Regions from separate parts of the Homo sapiens genome. Here region 2 is linked to region 1. Evidence: fine-mapped expression QTL. Tissue or cell type: whole blood. Region 1 holds a variant in brackets; the other region holds the start of a gene. All regions are shown on one strand. Distances are between the middles of the regions.

The links. PIP is the estimated chance that this variant, and not a neighbour inherited with it, causes the effect.
Region 2: it holds the start of GADD45B, and the variant in region 1 is fine-mapped to the expression of GADD45B in whole blood (TOPMed, PIP above 0.99).

What each region holds. Positions count from the first base shown.
Region 1 is chr19:2,625,788-2,633,887 of GRCh38, forward strand. The region is part of intron 2 of GNG7 (G protein subunit gamma 7); the gene reads right to left. It overlaps MIR7850 (microRNA 7850), which reads left to right and starts at 4,928; the gene lies at 4,928-5,006. RefSeq lists enhancers at 1,194-2,393, 8,096-8,100. The variant C/T (reference allele first, on the strand shown) is at 4,221.
Region 2 is chr19:2,472,398-2,480,497 of GRCh38, forward strand. It overlaps GADD45B (growth arrest and DNA damage inducible beta), which reads left to right and starts at 3,730. Exons shown (of 4, transcript NM_015675.4): 1 at 3,730-4,005; 2 at 4,132-4,233; 3 at 4,632-4,854; 4 at 5,091-5,860. The coding sequence starts at 3,962. The coding sequence ends at 5,204. RefSeq lists silencers at 2,371-2,510, 2,881-2,990, 6,551-7,130 and enhancers at 3,731-3,800, 3,802-4,389, 4,371-4,460, 4,390-4,979, 4,621-4,730 and 8 more.

The DNA.
Region 1 (8,100 bases):
TTTGTTTTTGTTTTTGTTTTGTTTTTGAGGCGGAGTCTCACTCTGTCGCCCAGGCTGGACTGCTCACTGATGCTCACCGCAACTCCGCCTCCCGGGTTCAAGCGATTCTCCTGCCTCAGCCTCCCAAGTAGCTAGGATTACAGGCGCCCACCACCACGCCTGGCTAATTTTTGTATTTTTAGTAGAGATGGGGTTTCACTATGTTGGCCAGGCTGGTCTCGAACTCCTGACCTCAGGTGATCCACCCGCCTCGGCCTCCCAAAGTGCTGGGATGACAGGCGTGAGCCATGGCGCCCGGCCTGATTATTTCATTTACTCCCTGCAGCAACCCTGGACTGCAGGGGTGGTGATCACCCCCCATTTTACCAAACAGAAGCAGAGAGTGACCGCGGGTGCCCACCTGACCCCGTGTCTCCAGCGGGAACGTGAAGCTGATGCTGCTCCCGCCCCAGGCCTGAAGCCGGCCCCCTGCCCCAAACCAGCCTGACCAGCGGCACCGTGGAAACCCACCGGGATCTCTGCCACCCACAGGAGGCTGGGGCATCTCTCACCCCCTCTGTGCCTCAGTTTCCTAATCTGTCACACAGGGAGGCTGGACCCAAACCAATTGATTGTTGTCATGGGTGGAGCCGGAACCCGCTATGGCTCCCTCCTGCCCTCGGGATAAAATGCAGCCTCTGCCGTGCGGCCTCCTCACTCCCTCCCTCTCACCTTTTCAAGGTCCTGGAACCATCTCTGCACCTGTATCCCCCACCCCACCTGTCACCTTCAGGGCACTAGCAACACTCAACTCATGTCACTTCCTCCAGGAAGCCCTCCCTGAATTCCCGAACAAAGCTCCTGGTGTGGGCACCTGCTTTCACTCTTGGGCGGTGTTGTCTTCATCGGTTCACTCAATCAGGGTCTCAACTGGGGTAATTCTGTCCCCTCAGGGGACACTGGGCGGTGTCGGGGGACATCTGTAATTGTCATGACGGAGGGAAGTGGGACCTTCCCTGACTAATATTCCCTCACATCGGTCCATGCTCCTGGCATGGAGTGGGTGGAGGCCAGGGATGCTGCTCAGCACCCTGCAGTGCCCAGGACGGCCTCACCCCAGAGAACAGTCCAGTGTCAGTGTCCACAGTGCCCAGGGGGAGAGACCTGCTTTAATTATTTGGGAATAAACTGAGTGTCCTCCCTACTCACACCAGACACTGGAATAAACTCCAGATGGAGCAGACGGCATAAACCCGGGAGCCCCAGCTCCTGGGACTCATCTCCTCTCTCTCTTCCCACTCAGGTGTGGATTTCAATGTGTGCAGCCTCCTGGGACCTCCGCAGGGCAGAGGATCATGGGATGCAGAATCTCTTGGGGTCTGTGGAATCTTCTATCCCAGAGGGTCTCAACCAAGGTGTTTCTGTCCCAGGGGACGCTGGGTGATGTCTGGGGATATTTGTGGTTGTCATGACTGGGGGTGCTCCTGGCATGGAGTTGGTGGAGGCCAGGGACACTGTCAGCACCCTGCAGTGCCCAGGATGACCCACCCCAGAGAACGATCCACCTCACATGTTAAATGGCGGTAAGGGGGTGAACCCACCCCCTGCATGGCTCCAGGGGCACCCAGAGTGGGGCCCCAGCCCTGTGGCCGCCTCTCCTCCCACTTCCTCCGGGCGCCTGTCCTCTGCACCTGCATCCTCTGGCCCTGGCTCCCTTCAGAGCTGGTCACAGCTGGCAGCCCGCGTGCTGTAAACACCCACCCAGGCGTGCCAGCCAGACCTGGCTTTCTGTCACTCCCGGCTGATTCTGAATTCCCAGTCTCACATGGGCCAGAGGGTGACTGGCTCGAGACTTGCCTCTCATTACGAGCAAAGCTCTGATTCAGCCGGAATATTAGTCAGGGTACAGCATGTCACATTCCAGGAGGCTGATCAGCTCCGACCTCAACACCGGCAGCTGACTCAGCCCGGGGAGTTGCATGTGCTGACTACTCCTTCTGAGCCTCACAGTTATGTTCTCGAGATTTCACTCAGTGTCCTATGGTGTCACTGGTCCTGGTCGCAGACACAGACTCACCTGTGTGCAGGAGGTCAGGTGAGGATCGGTCCCAGCACCTTCATTCTTTGTTTCTTTCACTCACTCAGTAAACATCTGGTGAAGACTTGGACCAGATCCCTGATCTTAATGAAGGAGGTGACGGTCCGGCCCAGGTGACAGGCACAGTTAATGTGATGATCACAACACAGTTGCCATGTGACCCTGGGCACGTCAGCCCCTCTCAGCTACTGTTTTCTCCTATGTGAAGTGGAGATCATTATCTCAATCTCAACATGGCAAACAACACGGCAAGTGTATGAGTCAGCTACTGCTGAGTAACAACAGCGGCAACAAAGACACCATTTGCCATCTCACAACTTCTGTGTGTCAAGAGTCTGGCTTAACTGGGTCCCCCGCTCAGAGTCTTATAAGCCTAAAATCAAGGTATGGGCTGGGCCGAGTTGTCATCTGGAATTTGGGGTCCTCTTCTGAGCTAGTTTGGTTATCGGCAGAATTCATTTCCTTGCAGCTCTAGGAATGAGGTCCCTGTTTACCTACTGGCTGTTGGATGTGAGTGCTCTGAGCCCCTAGAGGCTACTCTCAGGTGTCTGCCACATGGACCCTCCACAGGCAGCTCACGACATAGCTGTTTGCTTTCTTTAAGGCAAGAAACCCCTTCCCTTTCTCTCTTTCTTTCAACTGTGGTGTGTGTGTGTGTGTGTATATATATATATAACATAAGACGGATCATCTTAACCACGTTTATGTGTACGGTTCAGTGATGTTAAGTATACTCACACTGCTGTGCAATGGCTCTCCAGAACCTTCCATCTTGTAAAACTGAGACACTGTATCCACTGAACAACAGCTCCCCTCTTCCCTCCCCCAGCCCCTAGCACCCACCATTCTCCCTTCTGTCTCTCTGAATTTGACACCTCGGGATGTGCTTCTGGTCTCTTTTATGGGCTCACCTGATGAGGTCAGGCCCACCCAGGATGTCTCCTTTTTGATGAGCTCAGGTCAACTGACTAGGAATCTTCGTCGCATCTGCAAAATCCCTTTACCGAACACACGACCTAACTGCATTAACCTAACCACTGGAGTGACACCCCATCGTATTCGCAGGTCCAGCCCATCCTCAAGTGCAGGGGATTAGATAAGATGTGGGCACCAGGCGGTGGGGGTCTTGGGCGCCATCTTGGAATTCTGCCTAGGACTGTAGCTGTAAAAGACATGGTGGCCATTGCTGCTGTAGGTGCCATTAGTAGGAAACACACACAAAGTGGCCCCCAAGGAGCACGTACTATGCATCAGGCTCTGTGCAAGGCACAGAGAAAACAGCAAAGAACTTTGGGGAAAGTTGAAGACTTGAGGTGAACAACTGGATATCTTAGTAGGTCTCTCTGAAGGTTGAGCAAATGGATAGGGGATATTGGGAGATGGGTTATGTCCCTTGGAAAGAACTCCAAATGTCCCTTTCAATAACTTTCCACTCTACCAGTCATCTCCTCCTTCCAGAAATTCTCAGGAGGCAGCGCTTGGTGGCTCTTCTGCAGATGCCAGGATGGTGACGGTGACAGCAGGCCACGCTCTTGTGTTTAGAATAGGAGGTCCCCAAGGACACAGAGTCACAGACGGGTCAGGTAAGTTGCCTGGGCGCCCACACGAATAGGAGGTGCTTCTGGATTTGAAACAAGTCTTCTAGTGCTAGGAGCCCCAGAACACACCTAGTGCCACCCCCTCCCCACGACAAAGCCCACCAGAAGGGCTGGCTGCCTAAAGAGGTAGTGGACAAGACCTCACAGACTCACAGACTAGTGGGAGAAGACAGAAGAGCGTAGCCCTGAACGCAGTGTGGGGGCACACGGTGATTGGAACCTGGCACCCACATCAACGGTCAAAGTCTAGATGGTTTTGTTTGGTTGTACTCCCGCCTCCCTCTGACCCCATGCCCACGAGTAAGAGGAGCTCCGTCCACATTTATGGACACTTAATGTTCCTGCACACCCATAAATAAGGTGAAGCCGAGTCTGCATGTGTGCGAAAGGGCACAGAGCTTTGCACATACATGGTGCCAGGGTCCATTTCCTGGTTTTGTACTATGGTTACGTAAGATGTCACCACTGGGGGAAACTGTGAAGATACATGTGATGTTTTTTGCTCTGTGTGATTTTTGCAACTTCCTCTGAATCTGTAATGATTT[C/T]AAAATAAAGGTTGTTTTTTTTTTTTAATAAGTGGAGACACATTTAGGTGTAACTGGGACACAGCCTGCCACCTACTTTCCAAATGCCTCCTTTCTCCCAATAACCCCCACCCTCTCCCCAAAGACCTGGCAGTACTCCTGCAAGAGGAAGGGATGGACGCCAGAAAAAGGGAGTGAAGGTCCTGCTGATTCGGTCCTGGCTGAGGCCGAACGCAGGCCCCCCCTTCCCTTTGCCACCAAGAGGAGTCTAAGATCTCCCTGGAGAACATATCTTGTAGAACCCCCTCCCCTTGAGTGTGGGCAGGGCCCGTGGACATGATGAGATATCACTCCCCTGATTAGGTTGCTTTTCAGGAAAGAAGGGATTTTGAAGAGGTAAATAAGGTCCTAAATCAGTTGACCTTGAGTTCACTGAAAGGGCGATTATCCTAGGTGGGCCTGGTCTAATCAGGTGACCCTTTAAAAGGGATTGGGCCTTTCCTGAAATGAGAGCCTGGAAGCATGAGGGGCCTATGGAGAAGGCCAAGTGGCCTGAGAGTGGCCTCAAAGAGCTGAGAGTTGCCCCCTCCTGACAGCTAACAACGCAACAGAAACAGTCTATCAACCACAAAGAACTGAATTCTGAATGAGCCTGGAATGAGCTTGGAAGGGGATCCGTCACCACACAAACCTTCGGATGAGAATGCAGCCCTGGCTCACATCTCCGAGGTCAGAAGTTTGGACATAGTGTGGCTGGGTCCTCTGTGCAGGGTCTTACCCAGCCACACTACATCCAAACTTCTGACCTATGGAACCATGAGATAATAAATGGGTGTCACTCTAAGCTACTGCATTCATGGTAGTTGTTACGCAGCCATAGCTAGCTAATACACTCTTTATGTGCTGCAGACTAGAGCATTCTGGGATTTTATGGTCAGCTTTCAAACTTATTCATACACAAGGGTTTGGACATCATGTCCCTCCACAATCAGCCAAGCAACTCAGCAGTTTCCTCCTGAGTATGTCTGAGTATATCATCAAAAAGGTCTAATGACTATGACATTATCTGATTGTCTCAACAGCACTGTGTGGGGCTGAGGAGGCATAGCAGGCATGAAGACCAGAGGAAGAATGGTGCATTTAGTATTAGACAGCTTGACATGCATTAACCCCTTGAGAGGCAGGCACTGCCTATTCTCCCCCCTTTCACAGACGAGGGCATTGAGGTTCAGAAAAGCACAGAGATGGCCCAGGGTCACAGAGCCAGTAGGTGGCAGAGTTGGGAGCCCAAGCCCTAAACTGCTGGTTATGTCACCTCATGAAGCCACTTAACCTCGCTAGGTCTCAGCATCCTTATCTGTCCAGTGACGATCATTCTTTCCTCACGAGTGGTTATGAGATGAAATCAGATAACTCAAGGCCTCTAGGCTGAGGGTCAGCAAACCTTTTCTGCAAAAGGCCACTGAGCTCTGTCCTTGTAGTATGAAAGCAGTCACTGATGACAGGTAAATGAATGTCTGTGGCCGTGTGCCAATAAAACTTTATTCATAAAAACAGGAAGTGGAACAGAGAACTTGGCCCAGGGACCTGCAGTATGTCTGTGGCTGTGTGCCAATAAAACTTTATTTATACAAACAGGGAGTGGAGGGGGGAACTTGGCCCAGGGAGCTGCAGTTTGTCTGTGGCTGTGTGCCAATAAAACTTCATTTATAAAAACAGGAAGTGGAGGGCCAGACTGGGCCTGGGGTGGGGGCACAGCATGTCTGTGGCTGTATGCCAATAAAACTTTATTTATAAAAACAGGAACTAGATGGGGGACTTGGCCTGGGGGCCACAGTTTTCGACCCCGGCTTTAGCAGTTTTTTCCTTCTTTTGCTAACTTCTAAAATGAAGCCGACTGACCCTAGAAGTGCCATTTCTGAAAGAGGAAGAGAGAAAAGGGGTGAAAGGACGTTGAACCAGCCAAGGCAGACTACAGCATTTTCAGGGCGTCTCCCCAAGATCTCCAATAAGGACAACTAGCATCGACTAGGCTAATCCCGTGACGGCCTGTTCTGCGGGGACATCATCACCCTGGTGCTGCCCTCTCCCCCATTCTCTAGAGAAAGGAGCCCCAAAAGAACAGATAAACTCTGCCTCCTAGAAAGGTAAGACTCCTGGCCTGGCGCTGTGTGGGATCATGCCTGTAATCCCAGCACTTTGGGAGGCAGAGGCAGGTGGATCACTTGAGGTCAGGAGTTCGAGACCAGCCTGACCAACATGGTGAAACCCGTCTCTACTAAAAATACAAAAATTAGCCAGGCGTGGTGTCAGGCACCTGTAATCCCAGCTACTTGGGAGGCTGAGGCAGGAGAATTGCTTGAACCCGGGAGGTGGAGGTTGCAGTGAGCCGAGATTATGCTATTGCATTCTAGCCTGGGAGACAAGAGTGAAACTCCATCTCAAAAAAAAAAAAAACAAAAAAACCCAACCTGCTATAAACAAAACTCACACACACACACACACACACACACACACACACACACGCACACAGAAAACAGACTGGGAATTGTAAAAACAGCTGACGAACAGAGACTTTCTACTCTACAGGGAAGTCTCTCACCGTCAGCACTGTGGACATCGGGACTGGATCCATCTCTGGGGTGAGGCTGCCCTGGCACTGCAGGGTGCTGAGCAGAGTCCCTGGCCTCCACCCACTCCCTGCCAGGAGCACCCCTTAGTTACACTGAGCTATGATCGCACCACTGCACTCGCACCTGGGCAACAGAGTGAGACTCTGACTCTAAAATAATAATAATAACAAGAATATAAGAATAATAATTCAGATCCATGTCCGATAAAAATAATAAATAAGTAAAGCTGAGGCTCTAACATGAAGTCATTACGAGGCTCATCCAGCCACAGTGGGCTCTGCACTGGGGCACCCGCCTGGGCCTCTGCCTGGCCCATGTCTGCTCAGGAGCCCTCAGCCCCTTGAACCCTGCTGGTGGGACAGGGGGCCCCTCTACCAGGCCCCTAACTTCTCAACAGACCCCACCTTGGGCCTCCCCAGGCTGCACCTTAACCATCTATGACACGCATCCCCAGGCGGCACCGGGAGTGTCTGCGCAGAGATCCGAGGGTGTTAGCCTGGCAGGGGCCCTGCAGGTGGGTGCTGGTTCACTAAAACGATGAAGCGGATGGGAGGAAAATTAGCATCCAACGGGCCTCATCATTGCTGTCCTGGGCAATGGACTCTGACCCCTGCTGTAGAGGGTCAGAGAGGGTCAAGGTCAAGCCACAGATTGGCAGAGCCATCCTCTCTGGCCTCCACTCGGCTCCCCCATGTCCCCTGCCCCCAGCATCTCATCATATGCGACTGTCACCGCCGTGTGTATTTTGAGTCAAAGGCGGCCAAGGCTCGATGAATCTGCCGATGACCAAGTTGGTGCCTCATCCCTCGTTCTGTGGGAGGCTGACTGTTCAAGCGGTTGCTTAGCAACAGGCGCGCGCGCGCGCGCGCACACACACACACACACACACACACACACACACACACGAGAGGTGGCTGTGGTCTGCACACTGGGCTGGGGTACTCAGATCCCCGGGCTCGGTGGTCGTGGATGTGAGCCTCTCTGGGTATGGAGCCTCAATCAGTAGAGTCAGGTGGTCGCAATAACAGCTCTGAAACGGGGATTCATTGAGAGGACATCGGTGGGCTTGAAAACGGGTGTCTGTTTACCGGGGCTTGAGTGGGAGCTGTAGTAATTCTGTCCAGAAGAGGACAGAAGCCTGCTCTCAACTCACCCGGGAGGCAGGTTCTTCTGCACCGGGCCTTCTCCCCCCGGCACTGTGGGCATTTGGGGCTGAATCATTCTTGGTTGTGGGGCTGCCCCGGGCACTGCAGGGTGCTGAGTGGCAC
Region 2 (8,100 bases), 150 kb before region 1:
TAGCACACATTTCCTGAGTGCTTACCTGATTCTGGGAATTTCCTCCTTCAATGCCTGTGATGAAGCCTTTGTGTGACTGTTCCCATCTTACAGAGAAAGAAACTGAGGCTGGAGCTCATTTTCTTTTTTTTTTTTTTTTTGAGAAAGAGTCTCACTCTTGTTGTCCAGGCTGGAGTGCAGTGGCACGATCTCGGCTCATTGCAACCTCCACCTCCCGAGTTCAAGCGATTCTCCTGCCTCAGCCTCCTGAGTAGCTGGGACTACAGGCATGCGCCACCATGCCTGGCTAATTTTTATATTTTTAGTAGAGATGGAGTTTCACCATGCTGGCCAGGCTGGTCTTGAACTCCTGACCTCGGGTGATCCACCCGCCTCGGCCTCCCAACATGCTGGGATTACAGGCATGAGCCACCACGCCTGGCCCGGCTGGAGCTCATTTTCTGAGCTCAAAGGCACAGAGCTCAGAGTCTCTTGAAGATATTCCAAGATACTCCAGATATTCTAAGATGCCTGGAGCCAGGGCTGGAAAAAGGAGGCACAGGTGGGCTTGGGGTCTAGAAAGAGAAGCCTGGAGGGTGGAGGACCATGGGGGTCCAGGCAGTCAGTCTGGGAGAAAACAAGGCCAAGTCAGTGTTGACAGAGGAGTAGGGTTTTCCTGCTGAAGACCAGAGGAAGACAGCATCCCAGGCGGAGGAAACAGCTGACAAAGGCTGGGCCTCTCGCAGAGGAGGTTGTTATGGCTGGCACGGGGGACACACGGAAGAAGGACTTGGACACATATTCTCTGAGGCCCTGCTTTGCTCGCCTTATTTTATTTATTTTATTTGCTTTATTTTTGACACAGTGTCTCGCTCTGTCTCCCAGGCTGGAATGCAGTGGTGCAATCTCGGCTCACTGCAACCTCCACCTCCCGGGTTCAAGCGATTCTCCTGCCTCAGCCTCCCGAGTAGCTGGGATTATAGGCATGTGCCACCATGCCCAGGTAATTTTTGTATTTTTTGTAGAGACGGGGTTTCACCATGTTGGCCAGGTTGGTTTTGAACTCCTGACCCCAGATGATCCACCTGCCTCAGCCTCCCAAAGTGCTGGGATTACAGGCATGAGCCACCGTGCCCAGCCCTTATTTTATTTATTTATTTGAGACGGGGTCTCACTCTGTTGCCCAGGCTGGAATGCAACTGTGCAATCCCGGCTCACTGCAGCCAGGAACCCCTGGGCTCAAGTGATCCTCCTGTCTCAGCCTCCGGAGTAGCTGGGTGCACACAACACACCCCATTCTTTCTTTCTTTTTTTTTTTTTTAAAGACTGAGTCTCACTCTGTCACTCAGGCTGGAGTGCAGTGGCACGATCTCGGCTCACTGCAATCTCGGCTTACTGCAACCTCTGCCTCCCAAGTTCAAGCAATTCTCCTGCCTCAGCCCCCAGAGTAGCTGGGATTACAGGCATGTGCCACCACGCCCGACTGATTTTGTATTTTTAGTAGAGATGGGGTTTCTCCAGGTTGGTCAGGCTGGTCTTGAATTCCCAGCCTCAGGTGATCCTCCTGCCTCAGACTCCCCAAGTGCTGGGATTACAGGAGTGAGCTACCGTGCCCGGCCTTTTTGTTTGTTTGTTTGTTTGTTTGTTTGTTTTGGGGAGGATGGAGTCTCTCTCTGTCACCATGCCATGTGCAGTGGCATGATCTCGGCTCACTGCAACCTCCACCTCCTGGGTTCAAGTGATACTCCTGCCTCAGCCTCCTGAGTAAGCTGGGATTACAGGCGCGTGCCACCACGCCCAGCTAATTTTTGTGTTTTTAGTAGAGACAGGGTTTCACCATGTTGGTCAGGCTGGTCTCGAACTGACCTCACGATCTGCCCGCCTCAGCCTCCTAATGTGCTGGGATTACCCAGCCTGCAATACTTTTTAAAAATCAAAATCAATGCCCAAGTATCCATGAGGAACAAAATATCAAAATTGTAAATAAAGACAGAATCTGACTTTGCACTTATCCCACCCACCTCCCTGATCTTCCTTATCTTCAGCTCATGTTGGCCATGTTGGTCAGGTTGGTCTCGAACTCCTGACCTCAGTTGATCCGCCCGCCTCGGACTCCCAAAGTGCTGGGATTACAGGCGTAAGCCACCGCGCCCGGCCGATTTAACTTTTAAATTGAAATTATAAAATATAAATATGTATGTTGCATGCGTAAAACATTGCATAAAGTTACATAAAACGTTGCAACCGCCACGGTCCCCTTATCCCCCGCCTCCAGCCCAGTGCCCCGCCCGTCCGTCCCTCTCTTCCGGCGCTGAGGGCGCAGAAACTCGGCGCGGCCACCAGATGGCGCCACCGCGCCTCGCAGCCCCGGGACATTTCGTGCCCCAGCGGTGGGCGGCGCGGAGGAGGTGGGATGCGTCAGCCGGACCCGCGGGCCGGGGAGCCGGGCAACTGGGGAAAGTGAGCCGCCGGGCGGAGGCCAGACCCCAGGCTGGCGGGGGAGGGGACTCAGATGTGAGTCACCCGGGAGCCCCCAGTCGACCGTGGGAGACGTTGTCATGCGGGGCCTGCCAGCCTCGCTCCTGAACAGCCTTCCCGGGGCGGCGGAGTCCTGCAGGCGGCCGTGCCTGGCGCACACGCGTGGCTCCAACACGAACTAGCCTATGGCCTCACCAAGCCTCAGTTTCCCCTTTTGCATAATGCACATAAGCATCCCCCCTGCTTCCCAGGTCTTGGATTAAATCATCCATGAATCCGGAGGGGTGGGGGGTACCAGGTCCGCACCACGCACTCAATGCAGGTCAGCGCCCACCCCGGAGTGAGAAATAAAAGTAGCCGTCATCCTTGCACGTGGGCCCTGGGTGGCGGCGTGCAGCCGGAGCCTGCACCATTCCCCTCAACAATGGCTTTCTCCAGGGCCTGGAGGCCTCCGCACGGGCAAAGGCTGGAACGCCAGGCAGCCGGCGGGGGCGGGGCCGCGCCACCTGCACCTCCCACGCGCACCCCACCCTGATACTCGCGGGGTCGGCGAGGAGGCGCCCACTTTCTTCTCCAGAGCGCCCCGGGCTTTGCAACCTCCCACTTTCGGGGCCCTCGAGGAGGCCTCCCGCGACCACCAGGTGACAGCTGATGTGTATTGGGCTCTTACTGTCAGCCGTATTTTATGCCATGCTCTGCAAACCAGCGAGGCCGGCGCTGCAGACCCATTACTCAGACGGGAACAGAGAGGCCGGGAGAAGCGAAATCACCCAGGGGCTGGGGTCGTCGCAGCCAGGAGAGACTCCGGCCCTCACCACCACCTGGGCGAGATCACGCTGCAAACGGGGCCCCTTCCCGGTGCAGCCCCTCCACCCCCAGCAGAACTTGGGAAAGGCGCGGTCCGGGACTCTCCGCGGATCGGGAGGGGATTCCAGGCCCCCCCGAAAGTCCGGGCCGCCTCGCGCGCTGGAAATCCCGCGCGCGCCCCGAACCGCGGCTCGGCTGCCGGGAAATCAGGAGAAAAAAACTTCTGCTTTTTTTTCTTTTCTGGCATTCGCGGTCACCTACCCGGCCCCCGCGCGCCCTCCTCCCGGTTCTCGCCCCCACGTGGGGCGCCCCCGCACGCCGCTCCTCCCCCTCCCCTCCGTCGGCCAACCGCAGAGCTAGCTGCACTCGCCCTTGTCTTTCCACCAATAGGAGGGGCGAATGACTCCACTGAGGCCACGCCCAATGTTCAAGTCTATAAAAGTCGGTGCCGGAGGCTCCCAGCTCAGATCGCCGAAGCGTCGGACTACCGTTGGTTTCCGCAACTTCCTGGATTATCCTCGCCAAGGACTTTGCAATATATTTTTCCGCCTTTTCTGGAAGGATTTCGCTGCTTCCCGAAGGTCTTGGACGAGCGCTCTAGCTCTGTGGGAAGGTTTTGGGCTCTCTGGCTCGGATTTTGCAATTTCTCCCTGGGGACTGCCGTGGAGCCGCATCCACTGTGGATTATAATTGCAACATGACGCTGGAAGAGCTCGTGGCGTGCGACAACGCGGCGCAGAAGTAAGTAGCCGGGGCTGCCGCCGCCTGAGGTCAGCCGGGACGGGATGGGTCGGGTTGGGCCGGGCCGGGAGCGGAACGTAGCACCCGGTGGTCCGCCCGTCACTGATCCCTCTTTCCTGGTCTCAGGATGCAGACGGTGACCGCCGCGGTGGAGGAGCTTTTGGTGGCCGCTCAGCGCCAGGATCGCCTCACAGTGGGGGTGTACGAGTCGGCCAAGTTGATGAATGTGTGAGTCAGACCCCCTTCCCGGGCTGGGCGCGGGTGGGACGGGACCTCCCCTCCGCTCTGGACGCTTTCCGCACGCTTGTCTTGCATGGAGCTGGGACTTCCCCAAGTGCCCCCCGCTGTGGATGCAGAGCTTCTCTGCCGTTTTGTGGATCGGGGGCTGCCGTATCCTGATGTATCGTCTGCAAACACCCCTCCCGCCGTGGGCCTGTCTCCCCCTACCCCATACTTTGAACCGTGTGCCCTCCCCTCCCCCCACCGTCACCAGCTTGCAGAGGCAATCCCCTGCACCCTTGCAGTTTCTCTTTTGCTCTTGCACGCTCCTTTTTTGCAAACTCCCCCTGCACGGTGGCCCCTCCCCTGTCCCCGGCTGACCCATCCCTACCCTTTGGCCCCCTCAGGGACCCAGACAGCGTGGTCCTCTGCCTCTTGGCCATTGACGAGGAGGAGGAGGATGACATCGCCCTGCAAATCCACTTCACGCTCATCCAGTCCTTCTGCTGTGACAACGACATCAACATCGTGCGGGTGTCGGGCATGCAGCGCCTGGCGCAGCTCCTGGGAGAGCCGGCCGAGACCCAGGGCACCACCGAGGCCCGAGACCTGCATTGTCTCCTGGTCACGGTGAGTCGGGCCTCTGCCCTGCCCCGCCACGCCCGGGCACCTGGGCCGGTGTTTGTCAACAAAGTCGGGCTGACTGGTCCTGCACAGCTCAGCGCTCAGCCACGTTTGGCATGTCCCGTGGGCAGCCGGGCTGGGGCCTCCTCACCCAGGAAGCTATTTTGAGCCTGACTGTTTTCCCCACACAGGGGCCCCGGGAGAGGGAGGCTCCACTAAACCCCTTCTTTTCCCTCCTACAGAACCCTCACACGGACGCCTGGAAGAGCCACGGCTTGGTGGAGGTGGCCAGCTACTGCGAAGAAAGCCGGGGCAACAACCAGTGGGTCCCCTACATCTCTCTTCAGGAACGCTGAGGCCCTTCCCAGCAGCAGAATCTGTTGAGTTGCTGCCACAAACAAAAAATACAATAAATATTTGAACCCCCTCCCCCCCAGCACAACCCCCCCAAAACAACCCAACCCACGAGGACCATCGGGGGCAGAGTCGTTGGAGACTGAAGAGGAAGAGGAGGAGGAGAAGGGGAGTGAGCGGCCGCCCCCAGGGCGGAGATCCAGGAGCTGGCGGCCGCCGATCCGATGGAGAAGGGGGGACCCAGGCCAGCAGGAGACAGGACCCCCGAAGCTGAGGCCTTGGGATGGAGCAGAAGCCGGAGTGGCGGGGCACGCTGCCGCCTTCCCCATCACGGAGGGTCCAGACTGTCCACTCGGGGGTGGAGTGAGACTGACTGCAAGCCCCACCCTCCTTGAGACTGGAGCTGGCGTCTGCATACGAGAGACTTGGTTGAACTTGGTTGGTCCTTGTCTGCACCCTCGACAAGACCACACTTTGGGACTTGGGAGCTGGGGCTGAAGTTGCTCTGTACCCATGAACTCCCAGTTTGCGAATTATAGAGACAATCTATTTTGTTACTTGCACTTGTTATTCGAACCACTGAGAGCGAGATGGGAAGCATAGATATCTATATTTTTATTTCTACTATGAGGGCCTTGTAATAAATTTCTAAAGCCTCTGGTTGCTTGTATGTTTTCGGCTTCTAGAACAACTAGGACCCCTGCCCCCTCCCCGGGGACACGCTTCACCCCCCACAACCCCCGCCAGCTCACCAGGAAGTGTTACTTAAGCCCCTGTTAGCAGCTCCAGGCTCCCGTGCAGAAACAGTACCCCTTCTCTCCGCAGCAGGCGCCGCCACCGACTCCAACAAATCTATGCCTCTTTTTTTTTTTCCTTCTCCTCCTACCCTGCAGCAATTAAGAGACCGGTTTATTACGAAACCTGGCCGCCGTGCCACCACTGTTACTGGCTGTGCAGGAGCCAACCCCAAGCTCTGGGCACATATGGAGGCATTTCAGCGGGAGGGGGTGCTGGCTGCAGCCCCTGACCGCCTAGGCGGCCACCGCAGCCCAAGGTCCGGATCGGTCAAGGGGGCACCTGGTACCACACAGCGAGGTGAGCTCAGGGCTTGCAAGGAAGAGCGCTTTTGGAGGCTTCCCCAGGGAGTGCCCCCCCAGCCCACCACAGCCTTCTCCATCCCAGGATAGGCCTCTCTTTTGCACTAAAGAAAAAAACTTTTTTTATTTCCGCAAACTAAAATCAACAAGCAGAAAAATACCCCAGGAAGTCGGCCTCCGGGCCAGCCGGGCTTGGCGCAGTGCTGCGTTTTGCCTGTAAACCGAAACTGCGAGCCCTGGCCAGCCACCTCCTACTTCTCCCAAAGTTGCAGGCGCGGTGGTGACTCCCCCTGCCCCGGGCTGGGAGCGTGGCCCAGCCCTTCCGTGCCCGGCCTCAGTCTTCCCGCCCCGGGTCTGCAGAGTGGGCCCGCCCTGGCCAGGCGCCGGGACGACCTCGGTTCCCCTCTGCCCTGCAGCCCCCAAGCCTGGGAACTAGGGGGGAGTGGGGAGGGGGTGGGGTGGTCCTGCCCGCAGGCCGCGACCTTTCCACGGAGCCTCACGTGGGCGCATGAGGAAAACCCCAGCGGCTCCCTAGGAGTCACGGGGATCGGGGGAGCCCCGACGGGGGAGGGAGAGAGAGAAGGAGGGGGAAGTCCCAGAGGGAGAAGCGGGGAGGGGAGAGGATCCCGCCTGGGGCTAGGAGGAGGGGAGAACTGAAGTGGGGAGAGGGGAGCCCAAGAAGGGGAAGGGGAATCCCCCACAGCCCTGAACCAACAGGGAAACCCCGGGAGGGGGGTAGACAGGTAGGAGTCCCGAAGGGGTTGGGGGAGGGGAGAATGGAGGCGAAGAGGCGGGAGCCCCGAGGGGGTAGGGGGTGATGGAGTGGGGATCCCTGAGATGGAGCCCAAGAGGGGAGGGCACCTGGGAAGAGTGACAGAGGGCGAGGGGCTCTTGAGGGATTGGGGTGCGGGAGAACATGTGGGGCCAAAACCCAAGGGGGCTCCAGGTGGGGAAGGACCAGGTGGGGCAAGGGTGCGCCTAGCGGCGGCCTGGAAAAGCTCTGGCTTTTCTTTTTCTTTCTTTTGAGACAGTCTCACTCCATCGCCCAGGCTGGAGTGCAGTGGCACGATCTCGCCTCCCTGCAGCCTCCACCTCCTGGGTTCAAGCGATTCTCCTGAGTAGCTGGGACCACAAGGACCCACTACCACACCCACTAGTTTTTGTATTTTTAGTAGAGATGGGGTTTCACCATGTTGGCCAGACTGGTCTCAAACTCCTGACCTCACGCCCGACTTGGCCTGCAAAATGCTGAGATTACAGGTCTGAGCCACCGCTCCCAGTCTCTGGCTCTTCGTTGGTCAACCTCGTAGGGTAGGGAGGCGAGGCCAGCTCGGAGGGCTATGCCCCCGGGGATCGGATGGTCTGTCTCCATCCGGATTGTTCCATTCTTGCTCCTCGGTCTCTAGAACTGTGCAGCAGGATCTCAGGCTCCTGAGCCCCAAGTGGAGACAGGGCATGGAGGGGCCCCAGTGGTGGGACCCTCAGCCAGGACCTTCACCTGTCTGTGCCTCAGTTTCTCCCTCTGAAAAATGGGGGATAATGCTACCTAGCTCATAGATTGTTGAGGAGGTTAAATGATATATAGATTCCTGGGCCGGCCCTGTGGCTCACTCTCTGTAATCCCAAGACTTTGGGAGGCTTGGGGGAGGTGGGGAGGAATCCCTGAACCCAGGAGTTTGAGACCAGCATGGGCAAACATAGAGAGATCCAGATCTCTACAAAAAAATTTAAAAATTAGCTGGGCATGGTGGTGTGGGCCTGTGGTCCCAGCTACTTGGGAGCCTGAGGCGGGAGGAGCACT